2 separate regions of the Homo sapiens genome follow, and region 2 is linked to region 1. Evidence: fine-mapped expression QTL. Tissue or cell type: lymphoblastoid cells. Region 1 holds a variant in brackets; the other region holds the start of a gene. All regions are shown on one strand. Distances are between the middles of the regions.

Region 1 (8,182 bases):
CTGTGGAGACTATCTTATCCTCCATGACCTTGCTGGTGTATTCCGGTGTCCCTCCTAGCAGAGGGGTGTGGAGTTTGGGACCATAGATTTTGTAACATTTAATTCAACTCTGAAGCATGAATTCGCATTTAAAATAAAAGCAGTTTGGGGCTAGGTGTGGTGGCTCATGCCTGTAATCCCAGCACTTTAGGAGGCTGAGGAGGGCAAATCACTTGAGGTCAGGAGTTTGAGGCCAGCCTGGCCAACATGGTGAAACCCCATGTCTACTAAAAATACAAAAATTAGCTGGGAGTGATGAGTCACACTTGTAATCCCAGCTACTTGGGAGGCTGAGGCAGGAGAATCGCTTGTACCTGGGAGGCAGAGGTTGCAGTGAGCTGAGATTGCACCACTGCACTGCAGCCTGAGTGATAGAGTGAGACTCCATCTCAAAAATAAATAAACGAAATTAAATCACATTAAAGCAGTTTGGACTATAAGGTCTTAAAAGTTTTGTGCCTCAAAACTTTGGTGATGCCGTCTTTCCCAGTGGCGCTTGTCTTGTCCTTTTGGCTGACCTATTTTCTTTTCTCCTTTTACTGTGGCCACTCTCTAAGATTCCTTGTTTCTAGGGTCCTTCATTTCTCATAGCTTTGGGGAATTCAAGCCCTTGAAGTGTCACCTCAGGATTGGGTTGCCCTGAATGCCTCCCAACCCATCCTCCTCTCCTCAGTCCTTTCCTAAACTCATCTGCCTTGAATGCAACAACCAGAATTTTCTTACTTTCAACCTTTTACTCAATAGTTTCCAATTATTTTCTCCTTCTCAAGCTTAAGCCTTCTCAAATTGGATCTGACATCCACTTTTATTCAAATAATGTTTTTATCTTATGAAAAAAAGAGATCCATTTAGAATAATAATTGGGGCAACCTCAGTCAACTGAACTTGGAATGAGTATAACCTTCAGGGATAGCAGCCAATCATGAAACATTGCATGGATGGGGTAGCACAGAAAAGCAAAAGTCAACTTGAAAGGATTGCAGTAAAGGCAAGAGGGGAATTTACTTGATAATATAGCAAACTCAATGTTGAAGTGACTATAACATCAGGAGTTATTATTGGAAAGAAGATAATAGGTAGCACTGAAAATGTCATGGGCCCTATGTTTCTTCCTAACCAATGATTCGTTTTTCACTGGACTTACAACAGGAAGTAATTCATCCTGTTATAAAGAATGTAACATTTCCTTCCATTCACATAGCAGGCTGGAGTTTGGTGATTTTACTGGAAATGATGTTTTTTTTCCTTGGAGAGAATTCTGTTTCTATGAAGCACATACAGCTGCTGAAACCAATCTGAAACAGGTTAGAGAGGAAGAGAGGCTCAGCGGCATACAGGATAGCATGAGTTTAACTGGGAACATGTCAGAAGCAGCCAGCAACTTTTTTTTTTAAACAGGGAATATTGAGAGTAAGCAAAGCCTGCTTTTACAGAATTCAACTGATGCATTCCCAGTTAAAGATATTGAGATGGTATGTTAGCAAAGTCTATGAACTTCTTCTGTTAAGTAACTAGAACAGAGAGGAGAGATTTGGACATGTCAGCCAGAAAATGTGGCTCCTATGGAAGAGAGTGAAGGTAAGGTCAGAAGACTATTCCCAGTCCCACTGTGTGTGTTCTTACCTCTGCCTTAGTGATGATGGAATTACATAGCTATTGTGAGTCACTGTGTGCCTGTCCTTTATCACTCATTGTACTGAGGATAAAATCATAAATTGTTCACAGTTTTCATCATAGTCATTGTCAGTAAAATTCTTTTGTCATCTTCATTATGCCCAAAGTTCACCCTTCTCCCTTGCTGCCGTTGATTAGAGGTATTTGGAAAAGATGAGCCCTAGTTGATTTTCAGGTGCCAAGGTAAGTGGAAAGTGCGTCTTCAAAATGCTCATTTTTCCCAACTTCCTTCCATCAGGAGGTGCTGCATCTCACAGAAACAAATTGCATTTTCCATGTGGACTCTCGTTGGATATTAGCTGCCATCTGCTTTGTGCCCTCTCCAGAAACTACTACAGGTCCCTGTCATGGGATGAACTGTGTACCTTCAAAATTCATGTGCTGAAGTCGTAATCCCTAATCCCTCAGAATGTGGCTATATTTGGAGAGATAGTCTTTAAAGAAGTCATTAAGGTAAATGAGGTCATTTGGGTGAACCCAAATCCAATCTATGACTGGTATCCTTATAAGAAGAGATTAGGATACAGACACACAGAGAAGGAAGAACATATGAAAACATAGGGAGAAGGTGGCAATCTACAAACAAAGGAGAGAGACCTGAAAAGAAATAAACTCTGCTGATACCTTGATTCTGGATTTCTAGCCTGCAGAACTGTGAAGAAATACATTTCTGCTGTGTAAGCCACTCAGTCTGTGGTACTTGGTTATAACAGCCCCGTATTATACTAATACGGTATCCTTTCTGCCGCCTGCATTGCTGACTCCTGAATGTGGGGACATAGGCAATTGTGTTTGTTAGACACACAGAAAGGACAGATGTGATCTACATCAAGCCTAGACTCCTGCTCCTTGTTTTCTAGGTTCTCTCCAATCTTCCTCTCCTCTTCTGCATTCCAAGGCTTATCTCTCTGGCATGAACTTTACAGGACCATCAGACAAGGTTCCTTCCTGTCTTGCTCACTGCACCTCCCGTATACATTGCTAAGTTCCACTCCTCCAGTGTCCTGATGTGGTCCCTTCTCCACCCAGCCCCCAAAGCCCAGATTTCAATTGCTCCTCCACTGTTCTCACCTTCTGCTAGACAGGTACCCTGCTTTGTAATTGGTATGACACCATTTCAGGCTTGAATTGTCTTTCTTCACAGCCTTTCCAATTTTTTTTAAAAGGTATATTTAGGCTTACACAGGTACATAAAATGAAGCAAGATAACATACATTTGGCAATGGTGAAAAAGGAAAACAAGGTCAGAGATAAATTAAAGGGAGCCAGGAATGAAGCAAACATCGGAGAGCACGCTCATCTTGCTACAGATTTGGCTCACTTTTCAAGAAACCAACTTAAAAATGGAAACTTTACAGTTACACAATTCACACTGTATATAAAATGGAAACAAACTGATTGCTCAGAAGTAAAACTGTTCCTGATATTATCGAAAGAAGTATATTTCTCCTGAGAGTTCTAAAACTGCTTTATGTAAGAATGGCATTTTCAGCATCTTCACAGTGGCCAAGTGATGAGGTTTTTTGAATGCTGTCACAGCATTATACCAAAGTTTAATTCAGTTAGGCTACAGTAAGTCCTCAGTTAATCCAAGGCCTTAGATTTTCAAGGTCTTAGAGGAAGAAAGGGATTACGTATGCTGCAGGCAGTTCATCATATTGCTTCTTTTAAATGAGCATCGATCAGTACTGGATAACAATGAGCAATGAATTTAGCAATGGCAAAAGCCTACAAATAGAATTCTGGCTTGCCAAGTAAGTTTTGATTGCTTGTGTTAAAGGCGACAAAAGCCAGGAATAGGCCAGCCATGGTGGCTCATGCATGTAATCCCAGCACTTTGGGAGGCCGAGGCGGGTGGATCCCCTGAGGTCAGGAGTTCAAGACCAGCCTGACCAACATGGCAAAACCCTGTCTCTACTAATAATACAAAAATTAGCTAGGCATGGTGGTTCATGCCTGTAATCCCAGCTACTTGGGAGGCTGAAGCAGGAGAACCACTTGAACCTGGGGGGTGGAGGTTGTGGTGAGCTGAGATCATACCATTGCACTCCAGCCTGGGCGAAAGAGTGAAACTCTGTCTCAAAAGAAAAAAAAAAAAAAGAACCAGGAATAAAGATACGATTCCATTTGACAGTGCTCTAAAGCCAAAGACCACCAGGGATGCACCTGAAGTCAAACTGAGTTGGGTTTTTCTTGGCCTGTTGCACTGAGGGAGGCTGCATGTCAAGGGGACACATAGGTGGAAGGCACAGAGAGAAGGTGTGAGAGGTTTACATGATGGGATCTGAGGTGGTGGTAGATGATTTTGGAGAGAGTTCAAGGAAACATGAGTTTGCTCTGGATACGGTGCTGTCAGGAATTGGGCCAATTCTGACTGGGTATCTGAATTTTTATCAAGAAGGCAGGAAGAATAAAGTGTGATTAAAGCTGTGATTATTAAGAAGCTATAGTCTCTCTCATAAGCTGAGAGAAATATTTTGGTAGTTTTCACAGTGGCCTTATTTTTGTCTGTGCTCAGACATGACTATGGGGTGAATGTATTTCTGTCTCACTTTATCTCAGTGATAGAACGGCCTTGTCTAGCATTGTTTTCCATAGTAGCAATACCAAGACCTAACTGCTAGTGCCAGCCAGCTCCCAACTATCAGGGGCTGTGTTTCTTTCTCCCACTCTATAGACTGAGGAGCCTAATGAGTAAGTATGGATGAAACGAAGGAAATGCCTTCAGAGAGACAAGATTTTACCCTAAAACTTTGGTTTGAATCGGTGTAAACATACA[G/A]GCAAATAAGGAAATTGAGACCTCTCTTATTTCTTCTAATAAATAATTTAATCATCTAAGTCTTAGGGCAAACCCCTCCCCCAAGCAATATCAAGCTTAAACTTTGATTTTGCTCTTGGCATATAGATCCTGGAGCCTTGGATCATCTGGCTTAGCTGCAGGGCATGTGCTATGTATGAACTTCCCTTTAGCGTTTACAGATTATAGCTGTGACTTCTTCGTGTTACTTATTAAAAATGTAACTCCTTTTTTGTTTACAAAAGCCGAACTTTATATAAACTATTAACTCAAAAAATTATTACTAAAATATTACATTATAGAAAGTATGAAACAGGGAATAAAACCTGTAATTCCATTAGCAACACTAACCCAACTATAGTTATCTTGCTTATTCCTCTAACGACTCTAACCCAACTACTGTAATCTTTGTTTATTCTATCTTTTTCATGAACATTTAAAAATAGTTTTAATTATACTGCATAACATTCTATAATTTGCTATTTTACTTTATAATGTGTTGTTTTTCCTTACATCTGTGCTTTTCCATGTAACTATGGAATCATTTTAATGACTGTTTATATTGGCTGCATAAAATTTCACATAAATTTACCATTTTCTTACTTATATTTCTGATAGAAATATGTAATTATTTTCTTTTATTTCTGTTTTACTAGCATTAGAATGAAGATTTTCCAAGTTTATAGAATTATCTTTTTCTTTAAAAAAGATAATTTCTGGGTCTTTTCAACCCAGAACTTTTCAAGGTTTTCTCTTCATGCTTGAAGTTTGGGAGTTTTGCCAAAATATGGATAAATGTCTCCCTTCTTTCTATAATAGTGCCTGAAGTTTATTAGGCATTTTCAATTTAAAAACTCAGTTTTTTTTTTTAAGGGAAGGTTTTTTTTAACTTCTGCTTCTTCTCCATCTCTTCACTTTTTTCTTTTCTTTTTCTTCTCGTGCTGGTTTCCTGGGTCTGCTTATGTTTTTCCTCAAGATTACTAGACCTTTGTATTTTTTTCCTTGAGGATATACTTATTTTATCCTTTTGATCTTCCAGGCCATTGAATTTGAATATCATCAGTGATCATCGTTTCCTTAAATTCATCTAGTGACTTAAAAAAAAATGAATGCATGTTTTCTAAGAAGTCTTTTGTTATGTGCTGAATTTGAATCCCTTTAAATACTCTTTTTATCATTTACTTTTTCATTTTTTTTTTTTTTTTTTTAGTACATTGCCCTCTGCCTGTTCCAGTCAGTTTTATTTCATGAGGGACCAGCTAATCCTTGTTTATTTTTCCTGTCTCTGATTGTTGAGCCCCCTTAGCATCTGGTTATTTTTCTTTGCTGATCATTGGAGTTCAGTGGCTAGGATACCTTAACTGGGATTGAGGGTGGGGTGAGATTGTCTGAGAAACAGAAGGTGTGGTGATCTGACCCTGAGAACTGGCTGGGCTGCAGTGAGAAGTCATCAACTCCCTATCATGGCATGAGGAAGGGTGGAGGAGGAGGGAGGTTCTCCGTGGCTTTCCCAGCCTCAGGGGGAGCTCTCCGTCCACCCTCACAGCTCCTCATGAGCTTCTCTGGGCCTGGCGAGACTGGCCAATGTCAACTTTGTCAACTTTCCCTACAGAGGTTCAGCGATCTCAGGAGATCAAGCTATTCCCAGGAGCTGGCTGCTTCAGATCCTTGCTTTGGAACTACCTTCTGCTGCCTCTGCCTCCCAGGCTCCCACTTGGCCCAGAGGGTGGACACACCACACTGGTGTGCAATGTGTGTAACGTGTGTGTGCAGTTTTGCCAATTCACTGCCTGAGTGGATGCTAGGCTGAGGGGAGTGAGAGAAAGCTGAGGAGGAGCTGTGTGTCTAGGAAAGGCAGGAGACACCAATGCACTATCTTTCTAGATTCTCCTGCTGCCATGCTTTCTAGAATTATTTTAAATATTTCAGCTCAGTTATTCTTTCCTATAACTTTAGAAGAAATCATTCTGTGAATTTTTCTTGGGGTGGGGGAAGGAGGTAAATTAGCATCTTTCAAATATTTACTCATGGAAGATATGGCTCTATATTAATTCAAGCCTTCTTTATTATAAGTTTCATTATTTTTTATGTATAAAGTCACACACTTTTCTCATTAAGGTTTTTTCAGATACTTGGTATGAATCGTATTTCTTTTATTTTTCTCATTATATTTTCTTTTTAAGTATGTTCATATTAATTTCAAGATGCAGGCCGGGTGTGGTGGCTCACACCTGTAATCCTAGCACTTTGGGAGGCCGAGGTGGGCAGATCACTTGGGGTCAGCAGTTAGAGACCAGCGTGAACAACATGGTGAAAACCCATCTCCACTAAAATTACAAAAATTAGCCATGCCTGGCAGTGTGCACCTGTAATCCCAGCTACTTGGAAGGCTGAAGGGAGAATCGCTTGAACCCAGGAAGCAGAGGTTGCAGTGAGCCAAGATCGCGCCACTGCACTCCTGGGAGACAAAGGGAGACTCTGTCTCAAAAAAAAAAAAAAAAAAAAAATATATATATATATGTATATGTGTGTATATATATGTGCGTATATATGTATATATACGCACATATATGTATACACGCACACACACACACACACACACACACACAAAAGGGTAGAAAGTAAAACCTAAGTCTTCTTCCTGCTCTTGTTTTTAAATGCCAGTGCCCTTCCCCAGAGGAAACTATAGCTGTTAGTTGCTATAAATTCCTTTCGACCGGGGGTGGACAAACTTTTTCTGTAAAGCCCCAGGTAATAAATGTTTTACCCTTAGTGGGTCATGAAGTTTTCATCACAACTATTCAATTCTACCATTATTTTGTGGATAGTATGAAGAGTGTGTCGGCCGGACATGGTGGCTGGCGCCTGTACCAACATGGTGAAACCCTGTCTCTACTAAGAATATAAAAATTAGCAGGGCAGAGTGGCACTTGCCACTAAAAAAAAAAAAAAAAGAGTGTGTCTGTGTTCCAGGAAAGTTTCATGGACATTGACATTTGAATTTCATATATTTCATGCCATTATATTCATCTTTTGAATTTATTCTTCTATTTATTTTTTTCAACCATTAAAAATATTTTAAAAATAAAAAAACAGGTAGTGGGCTGGTGTTGGCCTTTGGGCCAGTTTGCTGACTGCTGTTCTACAGGCATTCCCTGCATATTCAAGCACATGTAGATATACTATATTTTTCTTCTGTTTCTTTGTTAATTTGTCTGCAAACAGGCTCCATGTCATATGTATTGTCCTGCACTGAGCTTTTTCTATTAAGGTTTCTTGGTGATCATTCCACGTGGGTTCATAGAATTACTTCTTTTGTTTTATTGGTCATGTGATGTTCAGGCATGTGTCATGATACATTGAGGAGAATTAAGGCTGTTTCTTTTTTGTTGTTGTTTTCTCTTTTTTAAAAAAATCTCTTTCTTTTTTGAGACAGAGTTTTCCACTGTTGCCCAGGTTGGAGTGCAGTTGTGCAGTCTCAGTTCACTGCAGCCTCCACATCCAGGGCTCAAGCGATCCTTACACCTTAGCCTCTCAAGTAGCTGGAACCACAGGTGCATGCCACCACACCCAGCTAATTTTTTTTTTTTTGTTTTAGACCGAGCCTTGCTCTGTCACCAAGCTGGAGTGCAGTGGCGCGATCTCAGCTCACTGCAACCTCTGGCTCCCGGG
Region 2 (8,182 bases), 160 kb before region 1:
TCATCAAAGAAAGCAAAATAGGACAAGGTTAATACTGTGTTTACTAGACAGCAACTACAGCATTATGAATGTTCAATTAATGTTTAGACTACATTAGTGCACTTTGTAGCAAATGTACGATATTGGAAAACATAATGCACACTATTCAGAAGCAGTTCTTTTTCACTAAATAAAAATGTGTTGGCAACTGCTCCGTTTCCATGGATTTATGATTCTAATAGGTCCTGAAAATAAAGCCCAATCCTTGCCAAAATATCACTTATGCTTTATATCAGTAACATGCCCTCTATCTCTGCTTATGCATTTGAGAAACAGAAAAACAACGTAATTCGTTAAAAATCCACTAATTAGAACTCCAGAGAACTGATTTTGGGAAGGGGAAGATGTATGGGAGCTGACACCTAACCTATTTTATTTTTATGGAAAAAAGAAAATTACACAAAATTATGTGAAATTGAAAAAAGAAGCAAACATTTTCCAGAGTATGTTTGAAAGTGTATAGTTCAAATTTAAACCATTTTTTAACATCTAATGGTATTAAATCACTTTAGGAGAACTCAGTCAGCAAGAAAGATACAATTCTCTCCAATGTTCTACTTACAGAGAGAAGCATATTGTATATTTAATTCTTAAATTCTGGTGCCTGCAATACAAAGAGGAACCAGGAGATTTAACCCCTAGTTAACTAAAATATCAAATCAACAGGCCCGGGGCAGTGGCTCACACCTGTAATCCCAGCACTTTGGGAGGCCAAGGCAGGTGGATCACCTGAGGTCAGGAGTCCAAGACCATCCTGGCCAACACCGTCTCTACTAAAAATACAAAAATTAGCCGGGCCTGGTGGCGCACGCCTGTAGTCCCAGCTACTTGGGAGGCTGAGGCAGGAGAACTGCCTGAACCCGGGAGGCAGAGGTTGCAGTAAGCTGAGATCGTACCGCTGCACTCCAGCCTGGGTGACAGAACAAGACTCTGTCTCAAACAGACAAACAAAACTTGAACCCCATTCCTTAAATAACTGGGTCTTAACCTTAGCTGCATGTTAGCATGATCTAGGCATCAAATTCTCAATGCTCAGGTCCCATTCCAGACCAATTAAATCAGAACTACTGCTACTTAAAGAAACAAAAACAAAAACTCCACAGGTGATTCAATGCGCTGCCCAGATTGCTATCCACCACCTGGGATACTATAGTTATTTTAAGTTTTAAACCAGATTAGCTTAAGTCACAAATTAAATCTCTACTGCTGGATAAAAGCATATTTGCTAAGTGATCTTTAATTTTACCAGAGTACTAGAAAAAGAATGAAATCCAAATGCCTGGTTAACATTGTATCTGATGGTCTTTCAATTCTGGGGTGGCCGTGTAATCCAGTTCTTGGCACTGAAATAGAAGGGAGACTCCTGTTGGGTCTTTTCCTTCTGGGATAAAAGGACGGAGCCCCACTGGGAGGAAATAGTGGATTTCATTTCTTTCTGCACTTTCACTAGCCCTGAACTCTTAGATAAATATGGAAACTGAGGAGTTCATCTTGCAATCAAAAAGCAGTAAATGGGACAATAAAAAGTCAACGTTGAGGATGGTGGTAGAACAGAGACTGGAAGAGCGTGGGTCTTTGATGACATTGTTGTGTCATTGAACCACAACAACCAAGTACCTTCCAAATTTTTATGTTAAGAAAATGATTGCTTAAGCCACCATTAGCTGAACTTTCCGTTATGTGAAGTCAAACGTATTTCTTTTTTTCTTTTTTTTTTTTGAGGCAGAGTCTCACTCTGTTGCCCAGGCTGGAGTACAGTGGCACAATCTCCACTCACTGCACCTCCGCCTCTCCAGTTCAAGCGATTCTCCATGCTTCAGCCTCCAGAGTAGCAGGGAGTACAGGCATGCACCACCACACCTGGCTAATTTTTGTATTTTTGTAGAGATGGGGTTTGGCCATGTTAGCCAGGCTGGCCTCGAATTCCTGGCCTCAGGTGATCCACCTGCCTTGGCCTCCCAAACTGCTGGGATTACAGGTGTGAGCCACAGCGCCCGGCCCCAAAGTATTTCAAATGGGTACACCTTGGTTCTCTCTTAAGCTACAAATCACTCAACATTTACTACTGGCTAAGAACTTTAAGATATTATCACTTTTAAGCCTCACAGCAACTCCAGAAACAAGTGTTGTTATTCCCATTTTACATATGCAGAAACTGAGGCCCATACAAGTTGGCTATCTTGTCCTTGGCCATACAGAATTTAGATTGTAAGCCAGGTTCCTTTGATTCTAATCTCAATGCTCGTCATTGCATTGCTATAGTACTGTTATTAACCTCTTGGATGTGTGCAAGTCTAGTTGCTCTGATTAAATTGTGTATCACGCAAGAAGAGCATCTTAGGCTTGTAGGAGTACACCTAGTGGTCTACATTTAGATCATTAGATATTTGAAGAATTAATGGGTTTGCTTGACAAAAAAAAAAATTACAGGATAAGCTTTTTTTGTGCTGTTCTGCAAAACCACACGATGCTTTCAATTCACTCCAAAAAAAAAAAAAAAATCCAAATCAATCCACTTTCACAGAAGACTTGATAAAAAAGTTTTTAATAATAATCAAGGGCTTTGATATGTGATAACATTTTTTTTTTCCTCCCTGGTGAAAAGGCAAATGAATAGCAGGGTTTTGGTGCAGATGCTTAAGGCAACTGCATGGACCTATCTTCAAGGATATGGGGTGCTGCTGTCTGTCGAGTTGAAAACACAAACGTATCCCTTCCCAGGGTTGTGTGATAGGGTGTATTTTGCGATTTTTCTTTCTTTTTGGCCAGCATTTACTTGTCAGGTGTTTCAAGGTGTCTAATATCCCCACTACTATGCTATTTGCCCAAAAGGCACAGCTGATGGGCCTCCTGCAATTCCTGTTCCATATTCTCTTCTCTTAGCATTTACTGAATTATTGAAAGCAGTACGGAGGCAGCCACGTTGAGTTTAGAGTCAGGCTCACTGGACCAAAGCTACTATGTTTTGCCTTTCTCTGTAAAATGAGAAAAGACCTATTTAAAACGTTCTTATGAGATTTAAATGAGCTGAAATGTAAACTAGTAACAGTTAAGGTAGACGACAAGAACTTATCAAGTATCTATGTGCTGCATAGTGAGATAAGTGCCTGGAAAGTAATGATGGCCCCTGTCATCAAGAAGCATACAGTCTACTAAATTACCAGTTTCAACTCTAACTCCTTAGTGGCCAGAAAACGGAGTAAGTTGGAAGACAGTAAAATCTGAAGTCTGGCACCAGGGATCAAGTGCCAGTTCCTCAACTTTACAGATGCAGTGGGTTGAATAGTCTCCAAAAGATATGTCTATGTCCTAACTCCCAGGACATGTGAAAGTGACCTTATTTGGGAAAAGGGCCTTTGCAGATGTGATTAAGGACCTCCAGATGAGATGATCTTGGATTATCCCCGTGGACTCTAAATTCAATGTTCAGTGTCCTAAAAACACACAGAGAAGTGGCACAGGCACAGGAGAAGGCCATTAGAAGACAGGCCGAGATTGGAGTCATGCAACAAGAGGCCACGGACCGCCTGGAACCGTTAGAAGCTGAAGAAGCAAAGCATTCTCCCCTAGAGCCTTCAAAAGGTGCAGGGCTCTGCCAACAGCTTGATTTTGGAATTCTTGCCTCTAGAACAGTTAAAGAATAAAATTCTGTTGCTTGACACGAGCAAGTTTGTGGTGTCAGTTTCTTCATCTGGAAAATGGGGCATATATCCTAACCACAATCTTATTTCCTGAAGTATAAAATGGAATAACAGCAGTTTCCAGGCACGAGCAGACACTAAAAATGGCAAACATTTATTGAGAGCGTTCCATGCTAAGCGCTTTGCACGTATCACTTAATTATTTCTATTTTATTGATCAGGAAGCCAAAGCTCATAAAAACTGTAATTTTCCCAGAGCCACACAGCTAGCAAGTGAAAAAAACGGGATTACAATTCAAATCGACTCACAAGATACCCCTTTTATCCTCCACGCTGGACTGCTGAGGAAGTATGCAAATTAACACACTTTAGAAACTTTAGCTACTTCAATATTTGTTCAGGCTACGGGATGCAGGCCTCTTATTAACCGCGCCAGCCAGGTCTGTCCTTCAGCAGCCTGTTCTGCCTCGCAAGAGCTCTCCCTCTCTTTCCAGCACGGAAGCCACAGGGTTAATGACGTCATTTCCCGTGGCCGTTGTCGCGTCCTCCGCCCGACGGATTCTTGCAAGGGCCAAAATCCTCGCGCCTCAAGAGGAGGCATAACAGCAGCGGACCAATAGAAATTCCGAATTTTTGTATTCTCTGGGAAGCTCCACCTCTTAGTCCCTGATCCGCCGCGGAAGATGAAAAAAAGCGGCCCGGGGGCGGAGCAAGGCAAGGAAGCGGAAGCGGAGAGGCGGTCGGGATCCGCTGCGCGAGCTGTCTCGGTCCCACGTGTGCGGTGAGTGTGGCAGGCTCAGCGGTCGCTCTTGGGAGGGGTTCGCACCCTGCCGGGCGCTGGAAGTCGGGAAGGTCTCTCGGGGCTGTTGTCCACTGGGCAGTCTCCTCTGGCCTCTTTCTGGGCTAGGAGTTTGGGACTGACTGGAGCCTGGCAAGAAGGGCGGGACTGGCCGGGCGCGGTGGCTCACGCCTGTAATCCCAGCACTTTGGGAGGCCGAGGCGGGCGGATCACAAGGTCAGGAGATCGAGACCATCCTGGCTAACACGGTGAAACCCCGTCTCTACTAAAACTACAAAAAATTAGCCGGGCATGGTGGCGGGCGCCTGTGGTCCCAGCTACTTGGGAGGCTGAGGCAGGAGAATGGCGTGAACCCGGGAGGCGGAGCTTGCAGTGAGCCAAGATCGTGCCACTACACTCCAGCCTGGGAGACAGAGCAAGACTCCGTCTCAAAAAAAAAAAAAAAAAAAAAAAGAAGGGCGGGACTCCGACCTCTCTCCCACCACGTTGCCCTGCGTGCCGGGTTAGAGTGGACTAGCTTCACTCCGGAATCCCAGCCCGTGCTCGGCCTGATCAGCCTGTCTGTGCTACTTCACAAACCCCAACTCCAGTGCTAGGCGGTTTGCCTGAATGTACGCAGATTCTAAGTGCTGGGAGGAAACGAACTGGATGCTGAGTTGGCAGATAGTGGAGTCTGAAGAAGTGATCTTTAAACGGAGATTTGGAAGCTCAGGGAGTACTTCAAGCAGAGGCGATAATGGGCTAAGTTCCTGAGATGGGAGCTAGGAAGGAGTATAGTTAGAGTACAAGATAAAGTTAGCCGGATAGAGTGGAACTAGGTTCTGTAGGGCCTTGAAGGTCATGATGGGGAATTTTTTTTTCTGTACAATAGGAAAACATTTCCGTTCCTATTACCATGTGTAGAAAACATTGAAGACTTGTAAGCAAGTGAGAATCATGAATAGGCCCTGGTTCTCTTTAGAAAATGTATTACATTTGGAAGCTCAAGAGATTGTATTGGTAATAGTTTGCATTAGGGTGGTGACGTAAGGGACATTTAAGAGAACTAACTTATGGTTCAGCGTGGCAGAGTAGAGAGGAAAATGTCAAGGGTAACTCAGATTTCTTACTTGAGCAGTAAAGTAGATGATGTGCCATTGGCTGAGATGGAGGACGATAGGGCAGGGAAAAATAGTATATTGTTGTTTGTGGGGCAAACAACAATAACATAAAGAACAACATAGAGAATTATGTTTTGGACATATTAAGGGTAAGGTTCCTGTTAGACACATAATTAGAGGTATCAGATAAGCAGTTATACACAAGTTTGGACCCCAAGGAGAAGTTCATAATGGAGACATGATTTGGGAGTACTCAGCATAAAAAGCCAGGAGATTGGATGAGACCACCTAGGGAGAAGTGTGGAGAGAGAAGGGAAGTTCCCTAGGGCAAAGATTTGAGGAATGCTAACATGTAGAGGTTGGTCTATAAGAAAATGTCATTTAAACTGAATTTGAAGGATGGGTAGAAATTGTGTTGGTAGAGAGAATGGCTTTAAACTTCACTATTCTGATAAGAATAGTGGCTCCTGTGTGGTGGTGATGAGTGGGGTGAATTAAGACCACATTTTGAATGGCTGTGAATGCCTGAGTTGGAACTTTTTCCTGAAGGCAGTGGGAAAGCTTTGAAGCTATTGGAGCATGGAAATGACATGAAATAGGTGTGCTACTGGAAGGTTAATCAGGCAGCGGAAAGTGGATCAAAGCAGATAGGATCTAAACAAAACTGAGCAAGAGGTAACAGGAGCCTGAATGGGGTAATAGAGGGAAAGGAAAAAGGGGGGCGAATTCCAAGAGACACTATTGAATGTGATGATTCATTACGAAGGTACAGGGTTCCCAAGCAAAGCAAATTGCATTTTGCCCAGTGCAAAAAGCAAGACTCAAAAAGTTACATATTGTATGATTCCATGTATAAGAATGCCATTCTGGAAAAGACAAAACAGGAGTGAAAACCTAATCATTGGCAGTCAGGAAAGAGGGAAGGAGTTGAATACAAAGGAGCTGTACCAGGGGACTTTTTAGAGTGACAGGACTTTTCTGTAAGATACTGTGGTAGTGGATGCATGAGTCTTAGCCATTTGTTGAAGCCCGTGGAATTATACACCAGAAAGAGTAAACTTGACTATATGCACATTTAATAAATCTGCCAGCATTTCTGGGGATGGAATGCAGGCTGTGACAAATCAGTTAAACTATATTATAAACATGTAACTTCACTAAAGAGGGTGAGGGGCCGAAGGGCTGATCTAAGAACCTTTTTTTTTTTTTTTTGGCCTGCAGCAGTAATTGCTGCAGGCAGAATACACTGACTTGAATGCTAAAGTTAGCAAGTAAAACTTAAGAGGAGGTAGGATGTCCATATATTCTCCAAACATCTTGTCTGAAATGTTTATTAATTGCTATGGTAGTTTAACATTTGAAATAGAGTCTCACTCTGTTGCCCAGGCTGGAGTGTAGTGGCACAATCTCAGCTCGCTGCAGCCTCTGCCTCCTGGGTTCAGGTGATTTTCCTGCCTCAGCCCCCTGAGTAGCTGGGATTACATGTTTGCAACACCACCATGCCCAGCTAAATTTTGTATTTTTAGTAGAGATGGGGTTTGGTCTTGAACTCCTGACCTCAGGTAATCCACCTGCCTCAGCCTCCCAAAGTGCTGGGATTACAGGTGTGAGCCACCATGCAAGCCTCTAAGTAACTTTGGAAAAGTATTTTGAATGGATACAAAAAAGAATTGTACGTCAACACTGTACTGTCATTGTAAATTTATTTCTCACGGGGTACAGGTTAGCAATTCTGAAACTATGCATGTATAGTAGGGTGGAATATGTGTATAAATAAATTGTAGATGGTGGGAAGCAGGTTGCTCACTGTCAGAGAAGGAAGTTACAAATGAGCAAGAGGAGATGCCTGGAGGAAAATATGTGGTGCTTGATTAGATTTGGAAACATCAGTATGAGCTTCAAGTTATTGTAATAGATATAAAAATAAATATAGGTATGTGCATATGCATAAGTTAATATACATATATGTGTTTCCTGAATCTGTCTGCCGAAAGGACATAGAAACAGGGACACCTCAGTGACAACAAGTGCGCCTAGCACTCAGATCTTGGTTTTTAAATACCATTCTCAATGAAAGGAACCAGGATTCCTTGGAGAAGTGGCTGATTTCAGGGCTAGGTTAAGGAAAATACAGAAGGAACCTGGAGCCAGTGCCAGGAAATAAGGATGTGCTTTAAAAGCAAAACAAAACAGTTGGGCCGCGTCAAAAGGACACAGAAGCAACCTGAGAAACTTCCCCCTGGCTGGAGCTAGCATTATTTGAGCAACAAAATAACAGTGGTATTGGATTATAACCAAGGAATGAAATAAATATCTGAGACTATATGATACAAGTAAATAGATGGAAAAGATGGGACAAGTCTTCCCTACAGAAAAGTTGAGAATAACAAAGGCAAAAGTAATAAGAGAAATAGAAGATCACCATTTAAATGCAGTAATTGCTGCAGGCGATATCCACCGACAAATGCTAAAGTTAGCAGGTAAAACTTAGGAGGACATAGGATGTCTACATATTCTCCAAACATCTTGTCTAAAATGTTTATTAATTGCTGTGGTAGTTTAACGTATGCCTGGATTCTTTAGTACCCCTCCTTCTGGGAAGT

What was found. PIP is the estimated chance that this variant, and not a neighbour inherited with it, causes the effect.
Region 2: PUM3 starts here. The variant in region 1 is fine-mapped to the expression of PUM3 in lymphoblastoid cells (GTEx, PIP 0.98).

The regions. Positions count from the first base shown.
Region 1 is chr9:2,684,935-2,693,116 of GRCh38, reverse strand. LOC105375957 (a long non-coding RNA gene) reads left to right here. Exons shown (of 3, transcript XR_929436.3): 1 at 1-8,182. Among named protein-coding and RNA genes, the nearest start is that of KCNV2, 28 kb to the left of the region's middle. The variant G/A (reference allele first, on the strand shown) is at 4,493.
Region 2 is chr9:2,840,324-2,848,505 of GRCh38, reverse strand. It overlaps PUM3 (pumilio RNA binding family member 3), which reads left to right and starts at 4,411. Exons shown (of 18, transcript NM_014878.5): 1 at 4,411-4,461. RefSeq lists enhancers at 4,080-4,319, 4,143-4,437, 4,821-5,382.